3 linked regions of the Homo sapiens genome follow. The protein of the gene in region 3 purifies or fractionates together with the protein of the main gene of each other region. This does not show direct contact. Each region holds a gene or a part of one and is shown on either strand. Other genes may lie near its edges.

Evidence for each region.
Region 1: the proteins of SLC6A2 (region 3) and RAB5B purify together in Homo sapiens (affinity purification with mass spectrometry; one large-scale study listed by BioGRID and IntAct). This does not show direct contact.
Region 2: the proteins of SLC6A2 (region 3) and CLPTM1 purify together in Homo sapiens (affinity purification with mass spectrometry; one large-scale study listed by BioGRID and IntAct). This does not show direct contact.

Annotation. Positions count from the first base shown.
Region 1 is NC_000012.12:55,980,507-55,984,236, reverse strand, and holds part of RAB5B (ras-related protein Rab-5B), read right to left. Parts: intron 1-3,730. UniProt on the Homo sapiens protein: The small GTPases Rab are key regulators of intracellular membrane trafficking, from the formation of transport vesicles to their fusion with membranes.
Region 2 is NC_000019.10:44,961,816-44,965,545, reverse strand, and holds part of CLPTM1 (putative lipid scramblase CLPTM1), read right to left. Parts: intron 3,584-3,730; coding exon 3,471-3,583; intron 1-3,470. UniProt on the Homo sapiens protein: Involved in GABAergic but not glutamatergic transmission. Binds and traps GABAA receptors in the endoplasmic reticulum (ER).
Region 3 is NC_000016.10:55,703,840-55,706,692, reverse strand, and holds the end of SLC6A2 (sodium-dependent noradrenaline transporter), read right to left. Parts: 3' UTR 1,478-2,853; coding exon of another isoform or gene 1,421-1,477; 3' UTR 501-1,420; downstream 1-500. UniProt on the Homo sapiens protein: Mediates sodium- and chloride-dependent transport of norepinephrine (also known as noradrenaline), the primary signaling neurotransmitter in the autonomic sympathetic nervous system.

The sequences.
Region 1 (3,730 bases), on a different chromosome or scaffold from region 3:
GCCTGGCGACAGAGCAACAGCGAGACTCAGTCTAAAAAAAAAAAAAAAAAATTAGCCGGGTGTGGTTGGTGGCCGGCATTTGTAATCCTACTCGGGAGGCTGAGGCAGAACTGCTTAAACCCGGGAGGCGGAGGTTGCAGTGAGCCGAGATCGTGCCACCACACTCCAGCCTGGGTAACAGAGCAAGACTCCACCTGGGGTGGGTAGGGGGGAGATCGGGGGCAGGGAAGAAGCCACAATATGAAAGTGGTACAGAGAAAGAAAAAGAGAAAAAACAGGCCTGGCAGAGCGGCCCATGCCTGTAATCCCAGGGGTTTGGGAGATAAAAGGGGAAGCCTTGCTTGAGGTGAGGAGTTTGAGACCAGCCTAGGCAACATAGCGAGACTGAGTCTCTAGAAAACATTTAAAAAAATTAGCTGGGCATGGTGGTATGTGCCTGTAATCCCAGCTACTCCAGAGGCTGTGGTGGGAGAATCACTGGAGCCCAGGAGTTGAAGGTTGTAGTGAGCTGATTACACCACTGCACTCCAGCCTGGGCGACAGAACAAGACGCTATCTCTGGAAAAAAAAAAAAAAAAAAAAGGAGACATAACTAAAGGGTAAAGAGGAAGTTAGCAAAAGAATGAGAGGTGAGAACTCAAGGTCCCAAAGTAGACTAGATTAATACAGAGGAACATGACAATTACTTTGATTCTACTGGGTATTCTGTAGTCCCCTTGGTCAGTCAGTCTTAAAAATTCAGATATACATGTACCATTTTATGATTAAGTTTTCAATGGCCTATGACGAAAGGATCAAAATAAAGATGATACAGCAAATTTTTCATAAAGCTAAATTTATTCAATTTAAATGAGTATCTTTAATTATAACATTTTAAAATTTATTTTCCATTTTTAGAGAGAGTCTCACTCTGGTGTTTGAGAGGTCAGGAGTTTGAGACCAGCCTGGCCAACATATAGTGAAACCCCGTCTCTACTAAAAAATACAAAAATTAGCTGGGTGTAGCGCCACATGCCTGTAGTCCCAGCTACTTGGGAAGCTGAGGCAGGAGAATCGCTTGAACCCAGAGGGCGGAGGTTGCAGTGAGCTGAGATTATGCCACTGTACTCCAGCCTGGGCAACAGAGCAAGACTCCGTCTCTCAAAATAAAAAATAAATAAAAGAGAAGACAGGTGACACCATAATAAAAAAAAAAGGACAGATGATAAGCTGATCAAGTTTCCTTCAGGTGACATATATATGCTATACTCTCAAGAAACAATAGAAAAAGTTACTGGTTTTTTCAACTTACTCCCTTACATTTTTATGTATTTCAAAGCATGTGATCCAAGGGGTAGAATATTAAGCCTCAATGTTACTACTCTACAATAAAGGAAAATGTGGGAGTTAGAATGGACTGAATTCTCATGGCTAAACATATCACTTGAGCTCTGGGGGAGTGTAAAGACAGGAAACAATTGCAGACACGCTTGAGTTGCAAAGTCTCTGTCACTAACTCTCAGAGATGGGAAGTCAAGCCAGAGCCCAGATGTGGTCAGCAAGCTTTCTTGCTACTAAGCAACCTTGGATTCTCAGAGATCAGTAACTACTGACTTAGAAAAGACTACCTCGTACCCTAATATGTAGCCTTAAGAGTATGTTCTGGCTGCACATCATGGTTCACGCCTGTAATACCAGCATTTTGGGAGGCCAAGGCAGGAGGATCACTTGAGCCCAGGAGTTTGAGACCAGCCTGGGCAACATAGTGAGATCCCACCTCTGAAAAAGAAAGAATATGTCCTGCCTTCCTCCCTGTTCACAGCAATTGTTGAGCCACCTCTAAGCTTTGATCTTTAATCTTATCATGTTTATAAGGGTATCATTTAAAAAATATAATAGCTAGACTCTCAAAAATTCTGTGGTACAGAAATGAAATAATACATATAAGATTCAATTATTTATTTTCTATTCTCATTTTTTCCCACAAAAATACTAATTTTTTTTTTTTTTTTTGGTAAACCAGTCAAGTGGTATGATGATTATTACCTTCAAACCCGAGACAAAAAAAAGGGAGATGGGGCAGGTTTCTCTTCCTTTCAACCTTTTTAGCTCAGAAGAGAAGAAATCAGATTTAACTTCCCTTAGAAGTGCAGCTCTGCCGGGTGCAGTGACTCATGCCTGAAATCCCAGCACTTTGGGAGGCTGAGGTGGGCGGATCACCTAAGGTCAGGAATTCAACACCAGTCTGGCGAACATGGTGAAACCCCGTCTCTATTAAAAACACAAAAATTAGCCAGGTGTGGTGGCTGACACCTGTAATCTCAGCTACTTGGGAGGCTGAAGCAGGAGAATTGCTTGAACCTGGGAGGCAGAGGCTGCAGTGGGTCGAGACTTTGCCACTGCACTCCAGCCTGGGTGACAGAGCAAGACTCCATCAAAAAAAAAAAAAAAGAAGTACGGCTCTACAAGAATGACTTATAAAATGACCCATTAACTAGGGAGGATTGAGGCCTGACCATGGGTTAGCCCACTAGATGCAGGAGACCCATGGAGGATGTTCTTTAATGTGGGCAACTCTCCCAAGCAGTGCAGCAAAGTAGGCATAACAGTAAAAGTGTCTTAGCAGTCCCAGCTAGAGTAAGACTCCATTCCTCAAGCCCCCTTCCACTTGTTAGCTTTGAGTCCCTAAACCAAATACATATGAAGTCTCCAGAAGTCTATCACCTATCAACAGAGACAGAGTTCTCGGTATATATAGCCACTGGAGTCCAACCCAGTACCAGTTGTCAGCCTTAAGGTCAGTCAGGCAGATCAGAGCCAGTCTAGAGGTCATTTAGTCCAGTCTCTATATTTTATAGGTGAGGAAACCGAGACACATACAATTAGTCAATTTGGGCTAGGCGTGGTGGCTTACACCTGTAATCCTAGCACTTTGGGAGGGCGAGATGGGCAGATCACCTGAGGTCAGGAGTTTGAGACCAGCCTGGCCAACGTGGTGAAAACCTGTCTCTACTAAAAATACAAAAATTAGCTGGGTGTGGTGGTGCGTGCCTGTAATCCCAGCTACTCAGGAGGCTGAGGCACGAGAATTGCTTGAACCTGGGAGGCAGAGGTAGCAGTGAGCCGAGATCACACGACTGCACTCCAGCCTGGACAACAGAGCGATTCCGTCTCAAAAATAAATAAATAGCCCCATCCCTTCCCCGGCTCCCCCGGTGTCCGCCATGGCCAAAGCCTACGACCACCTCTTCAAGTTGCTGCTGATCGGGGACTCGGGGGTGGGCAAGACTTGTCTGATCATTCGCTTTGCAGAGGACAACTTCAACAACACTTACATCTCCACCATCGGAATTGATTTCAAGATCCGCACTGTGGATATAGAGGGGAAGAAGATCAAACTACAAGTCTGGGACACAGCTGGCCAAGAGCGGTTCAAGACAATAACTACTGCCTACTACCGTGGAGCCATGGGCATTATCCTAGCATACGACATCACGGATGAGAAATCTTTCGAGAATATTCAGAACTGGATGAAAAGCATCATGGAGAATGCCTCAGCTGGGGTGGAGCACCTCTTGCTAGGGAACAAATGTGACATGGAGGCCAAGAGGAAGGTGCAGAAGGAGCAGGCCGATAAGTTGGCTCGAGAGCATGGAATCCGATTTTTCGAAACTAGTGCTAAATCCAGTATGAATGTGGATGAGGCTTTTAGTTCCCTGGCCCGGGACATCTTGCTCAAGTCAGGAGGCCG
Region 2 (3,730 bases), on a different chromosome or scaffold from region 3:
CACCGCGCCCAGCCATGATTGTTTTATTTTTATTTTCTCTTTTTTTTTTGAGACTCAGTCTTGCTCTGTCGCCAGGCTTGAGTGCAGTGGCACGATCTTGGCTCACTGCAACCTCTACCTCCCAGGTTCAAGTGATTCTCCTGCCTCAGCCTCCCGAGTAGCTGGGACTACAGGCTTGTGCCACCACACCCAGCTAATTTTTGTATTTTTAGTAGAGATGGGGTTTCACCATATTGGCCAGGATGGTCTCGATCTCTTGACCTCATGATCTGCCTGCCTCGGTCTCCCAAAGTGCTGGGATTGCAGGCGTGAGCCACCGCACCTGGCGGGATGATTGTTGTAAACATCTCTGCTGTGCAATTCCTTCTATCTCATAAGTAGGGAAGCTGATTGCCTAACTGCATGGTGTGGTCTCTTATTTTGCTAAAATACATCTCCAAAAAGCAAAAAAAAAATAAAAGGAATATCTATTTTGCAGAGGAGTAAACAAAGGCTCAGAGCAAAGAAGGTGACTGTCACTAGGTCTAGGCAGGAAGGATAGAACCCAGTGCCAAGCATATTCCCCCGCCACCACCCAGCATCTCCCCAGGGCCTCAAACAGAAGCTGGGCTTTGAAAAAACAGGCCCTGGGGTCCCACTGCCCAGGAATAGCATGTGAACCCACAGGTAAAAGGGTCACCACCAGGCAGTCACAGAAGGACAAATGCTGTCTGATTCCACATACAGGAGCTAACTAGAGTAGTGAAAGAGAGACAGGAAATAGAAAAGTGGCTGCCAGGTGTTGCAAGGAGGAAGAAATGGGAAGCTTGTGTCTGATGGGTATGGAATTTCAGTTTGGGAAGAGTAAATTCTCGGGATGGATAATGGTGATGGGGGCACAACAGTGGAGATGTACTTAATGCCACAGGACTACATACTTAAAAATGGTTAAAATGGGCCAAGCGTGGTGGCTCACGCCTATAATCCCAGGACTTTAGGAGGCTGAGGCGGGTGGATCACCTGAGGTCAGGAGTTAGAGACCAGCCTGGCCAACACGGCAAAACCCCATCTCCACTAAAAATACAAAAATTAGCCAGGCGTGGTGGCAGGTGCCTGTAGTCCCAGCTACTCAGGTGGCTGAGGCAGGAGAATCGCTTGAACCCAGGAGGCAGAGACTGCAGTGAGCCGAGATTGCACTACTGCACTCCAGCCTGGGTGACAAAGTGAGACGCTGTCTCAAAAAAAAAAAAAAAAAAAAAAAAAAAAAAGGTTAAAATGAAAACATAGGTTAAAATGGTAAATTTGATGTTATGTGCAGATGTGGGCTGAATCATGTCTCCCAAAATTCATATGTTAAAGTCTCAACCTTCAGTACCACCGTGACTAGATTTAGAGACAGGGTCCCCCCAACTTTTTTTTGCGATAAGGTCTCACTCTGATGCCCAGACTGGAGTACAGTGGTGTGATCTCGGCTCACTGCAGCTTCAACTTCTGAGGGTCAGGCAGGGCCCAGTGGCTCACGCCTGTAATCCCAGCACTTTGGGAGGCTGAGGCGGGTGGATCATGAGGTCAGGAGTTCGAGACCAGCCTGGTCAACATAGTGAAACCCCATCTCTAATAAAAAAAAAAAAAAGCAAAAATTAGCTAGGCACTGGGTGCAGTGGCTCACGCCTGTAATCCCAACACTTTGGGAGGCCAAGGCGGGCAGATTGCCTGAGGTTGGGAGTTCGAGACCAGCCTGACCAACATGGAGAAACCCCATCTCTACTAAAAATACAAAATTAGCTGGGCATGGTGGCACATACCTTAATTCCAGCTGCTCAGGAGGCTGAGGCAGGAGAATCGCTTGAACCCAGGAGGTGGAGGTTGCAGTGAGCTGAGATCGCGCCACTGTACTCCAGCCTGGGAAACAGAGCGAGACTCCATTACAAAAATAAAAATAGGCTGGGTGCGGTGGCTCACACCTGTAATCGCAGCACTTTGGGAGGCCAAGGCAGGCGGATCATGAGGTCAGGAGATAGAGACCATCCTGGCTAACACGGTGAAACCCCATCTCTACTGAAAATACAAAAAATTAGCCAGGTGTGGTGGCGGGTGCCTGTAGTCCCAGCTACTCGGGAGGCTGAGGCAGGAGAATGGCGTGAACCCGGGAGGCGGAGCTTGCAGTGAGCCAAGATTGTGCCACTGCACTCCAGCCTGGGCGACAGAGCGAGACTCCGTCTCAAAAAAAAAAAAAAATACATAAAATAAAAATAAAAAAATTTCCAAGGCTCAAGTGATCCTCCTACCTCAGCCTCTTGAATAGCTGAGACTACAGGTACGTGTCACCATACCTGGCTTTTTTTTTTTTTTTTTTTTTGAGATGGAGTCTCACTCTGTCCCCAGGCTGGAATGCAGTGGCACGATCTCAGCTCACCGCAACCTCTGCCTCCTGGGTTCAAACGATTCTCCTGCCCTCAGCCTCCTGAGTAGCTGGGACTACAGGCACGTGCCACCACACCCAGCTAATTTTTGTATTTTTTTTGTATTTTTTATTTTTTTTGAGACGGAGTCTTTCTCTGTTGCCCAGGCTGGAGTGCAGTAGCGCGATCTCAGCTCTCTGCAAGCTCCGCCTCCCGGGTTCACGCCATTCTCCTGTCTCAGCCTCCGGAATTTTTTTATTTTTAGTAGAGATGGGGTATCACTATGTTGGCCAGGATGGTCTCGATCTCTTGACCTCGTGATCCACCCGCCTCGGCCTCCCAAAGTGCTGGGATTGTAGGTGTAAGCCACCGTGCCCAGCCAGATTTTTTTATTTTTAGTAGAGACAGGGTCTTACTATGTTGCCCAGGCTGGTCTCAAACTCCTGGGCTCAAGCAGTCCTTCCAACCTGGCCTCCCAAAATGCTGGGATTATGAGGGTGAGTCATTGTGCCTGGCCCAGATAGGGTCTGTAAAAAAGTAAGGTTCAGTGAGGTCATTATGGTGGGTACTAAGCCAGTATGACTAGTGTCCCCATAAGAGGAGCTTAGGACACAGACACACACAGAGGAAAGACCACATGAAGACACAGGGAGAAGACGGCCTTCTGCAAGCCCAGGAGAGAAGCCACAGAAGAAACTGCCCCTGCCCACAGCTGGATCCTGGACTTCCAGCCTTCAGAACTGTAAGACAATGAATTTCCTATTTCAGTTGTTTAAGCTACTCCGTCTATATTACTTGATACAAGGGCCCTAGCAAACTACTTCAGTATTTTTTGTGTTTTTATTTTTTCACAAATCAGGTAGCCCCCCAAAAACCAGAACAGGTTCAGGGAGACTCCCTACTTCAGTATGTTTTACCAGAGTAAAAAAAAGGTTTAGAAAACATTCCATCATACAAAAAAAAAAAGAAAAAAAGCAACTCTACCATACAGTAATGATCACCATCCTCAGCTGATCAGCTGACTTTTCCTTTCTTCCTTATTTTTATTTGAATGTTTTCGGTGAACAAACCCAAGTCCCGTCTGCTCACCTAAACAGCACACCTTTGATGACCTGCCAGGCATTGGGTGCCGGCTGGGCCGGTGGGTTCTGAGGCTGGGTCTCCGCTGGCGGGTCCCTCCCGATGCTGCCATTGCTGGTCACCTGTGGGGGACAGAGGCCAGGGTAAGGAGGGAGAATGGACACGGGGGCTGTCTTAGACACCATCATGCATGAAGGCCAGGCACAGGCTGGGCAAAGAGTGGGTGCTTATCAATAACTGGAGAATGAATCAGTGAAAACACCTGGGAA
Region 3 (2,853 bases):
ATCACTATCTATTTGCTGGCTTGCATTAAAAATAATTACCTATAAGTTCACATCTTCTCCAAACAATGACAATACTCAGCTTACATCTTCCCCAAACAAAGACTTAGATCTTCTAAGGTCTAAATGTGAATGTATCCCTCTCCCCAGAAAAATTCACACATGCACCAAATTGTGTATTTAATTCAATCCAACAGGAGGTTCTGAGCTCCTTGAAACAGCCTTAGAAATGAAAACTAAACTAAACTAAACCTGGTATCACTTGGTGCCCTCTTTTTATTTAAAAATATATGTTAATCTCAAAGCTAAGATTACAGATTTAACTCCTTCCAATCTCCTTTTCCATAGGTTATAAAAAGAGTTATTTGATTAAAAGGTGGGTCACTATGACCAGACGCTCTTCTTTACTAGTTGGAAGCTGATCATAGATACACCCACCTCCCTTACATAATTTGTAGCATTCCACCTTCATGGAAGAAAGCATTCAGAACTCTGCTACCAGATACACAGCCCAGGAAACATTATTTATTATTCTGTACACTTATATTCCACAAAGAGAACAACTTTTAAAATCCATATCAGACACAGAAATCTGCATGACATTGGAACAGTCCATGACACAGAGAGGACACAATTGAAACAGTCTTTATTTACACGGAAGCAGAGAGACAGAGGGATGAGGGCAGGCACCCCAAAAGTGACTTCACATTCACCAATGTTTCAGTGGCTTCTAAGACCACAGCAGAGCTGTGGATCCTGGGACTCACAGGGTATGAAAATGTGTTACCCTCCAAAGCCTCAAAACAAAAGGGTTGGATTAAAAACAAATACCAAGTGTTTCTGGCATCAGTTGAAAAATATCTGAGAAAGAGGAACTATTGAATGTCCAGAAAAATCAAAGTTCTGGAGGCTAGAAATCTGACATTTCTCTGATAGAGAGATCACTGGTCATCAGTTCATTTTGGGAAATTCTTACAGTTAAGTGATGTGTTTCCTTCATTGTAAATTTAACAGGAGAGCATCATTATGGATACATGCAGGGTTTTCTTTAATGGAATGGGAACTTTGATGATCTGATATAACCCCTGATTTTAAAGACAAAGAATCTTGAAGCCCCAAAAGATGAAGCCACTATCCCCAGGCCACCCAGCTAGTCAGCTGCAGACCCAAGTCTGTAAAACTATATGCTGTGCTTTTTCCGCCACACTACACACCTTCTCTGTTTTTCTCTCTTCGGTGGCTTTCGAAGGAAATAAACAAATAAAGTGAGTTCAATGGGCTTCTTTACTAGGAAATGATTTCTTTGGTAAGAATGCTTCAGTCTCACATTAGCGAGGCTAGAAAACAGATCATATAGCAGGAACTGGCTCCCAGCTGAGCGGTAACTCCTTTTGAGAATTAAGGCAGCTTCAGGGATTTCTGTTCAGCAGGATATCTGGCAAGAGTTGGTAGCTCTCCTTCTCCCTTGTCTCGTTTTCATCTAGAATGAAAGCTAAAAGGTGGGTGCTAAATAACTAGACATTGAGTAGACGTAAATGTGATGTTCTCAAACTGATATTTTACATTTCATGAAAAATAATAATTCTTTAAAAACCTGAAAAAATATCAAAAGCGTCAAGTGTCATATACAGTACACAGCACCCTTGTCCCGGGTGACCTCTGCTATTAAAAACAAGCTACAAAAAGGAAGTCAAAGATGACTTAACATAAAGCCCATACTCTCTCTCCATTAAATGTGGGTGGAAAGGTAAACCCAAATGATCTCCAAGCACCTCCCCGAGAACTTCCAAGGGCTTTCTGGGTACCCCCACCCTCCCAGGGGACCCAGGCTTGGAGCCAGGTTCCCATCCCAGATTCAGGAGCCAACTTCCGCCGCAAGGCAGCACCACTGCGTTGGTTTGGTGTTGGTTCAGCTAGCACCACATCTCCGATTCACCCCGGGACAAATGTCTGGAGGCAGAAGGGGCCACATGCAGATGGCAAAGAGGAAATGGCAGGCTCTCTCGGAAGCACGACCCTGCTCTAATGCAAAAGGCTTTGCTGACTGTTTGCTCTCATTTCAACCAAGTAGACTCAGCTTTTCACATCCAACTATTCCAAAGAGTGATTATTTTCATCAAAAGAGAGCAGCTAAATAATTTCCTCTCTGGAAACCAGCTAGAGGAAAATAAATGGCATTCTCTCGCCCCTTCCCATCCTCCAACACATTGTTCTTTTGCTAAGAAATTTTCCTTTGCGGTTTGAATGAGTTTTTTAAAAATGACAGTCCTGGGTGGGGTGAACCCTATTGTGCAGGGAATATTCAAAATAATCTGGGCTGAGAGTCAGTGGATGTGAATTGAAGGCCCAACTCGATCTGTTAGTTGCTAAAAAACCTTGAGCAAGAGTGACTAAAATGCTGGGCCTTGGTTCTCTCACCTGGGAAATGGGGAGATAGAAGCTATAGCCCTGCAGTCCTCACTGGGCAGATGGCAGGTAATGTGCATTAAAGTGCTTTATTACAAACAAACAAACAAACAAACAAAAACAAAAACAAAAAACGAAAAGAAAAATGGTAACACCTAGGAAGAAGTTACCTTTTATGGGAGGATATAAAGTCACTAATGGGGCCCAGACCCCGACCTGATTGTTCTCCATTCTTAAGCCTCACTGTTCACAGGGCTCCAAGACACCTGCCACCTGGGCTGTCTCAGGCATTCAGCTGACCTTTTTATACAGAAAGATTCAAAGTCTCCTGATTTTCCCTCTTTTATCTATAGAATGACCTGAGGACCCCGACCCAGCAAGGAAACCTCAGGACCCTGGGAGACAAAACCATCTCCCTGCCCCACCCTGGTCCCCTCATAATCCTCTTCA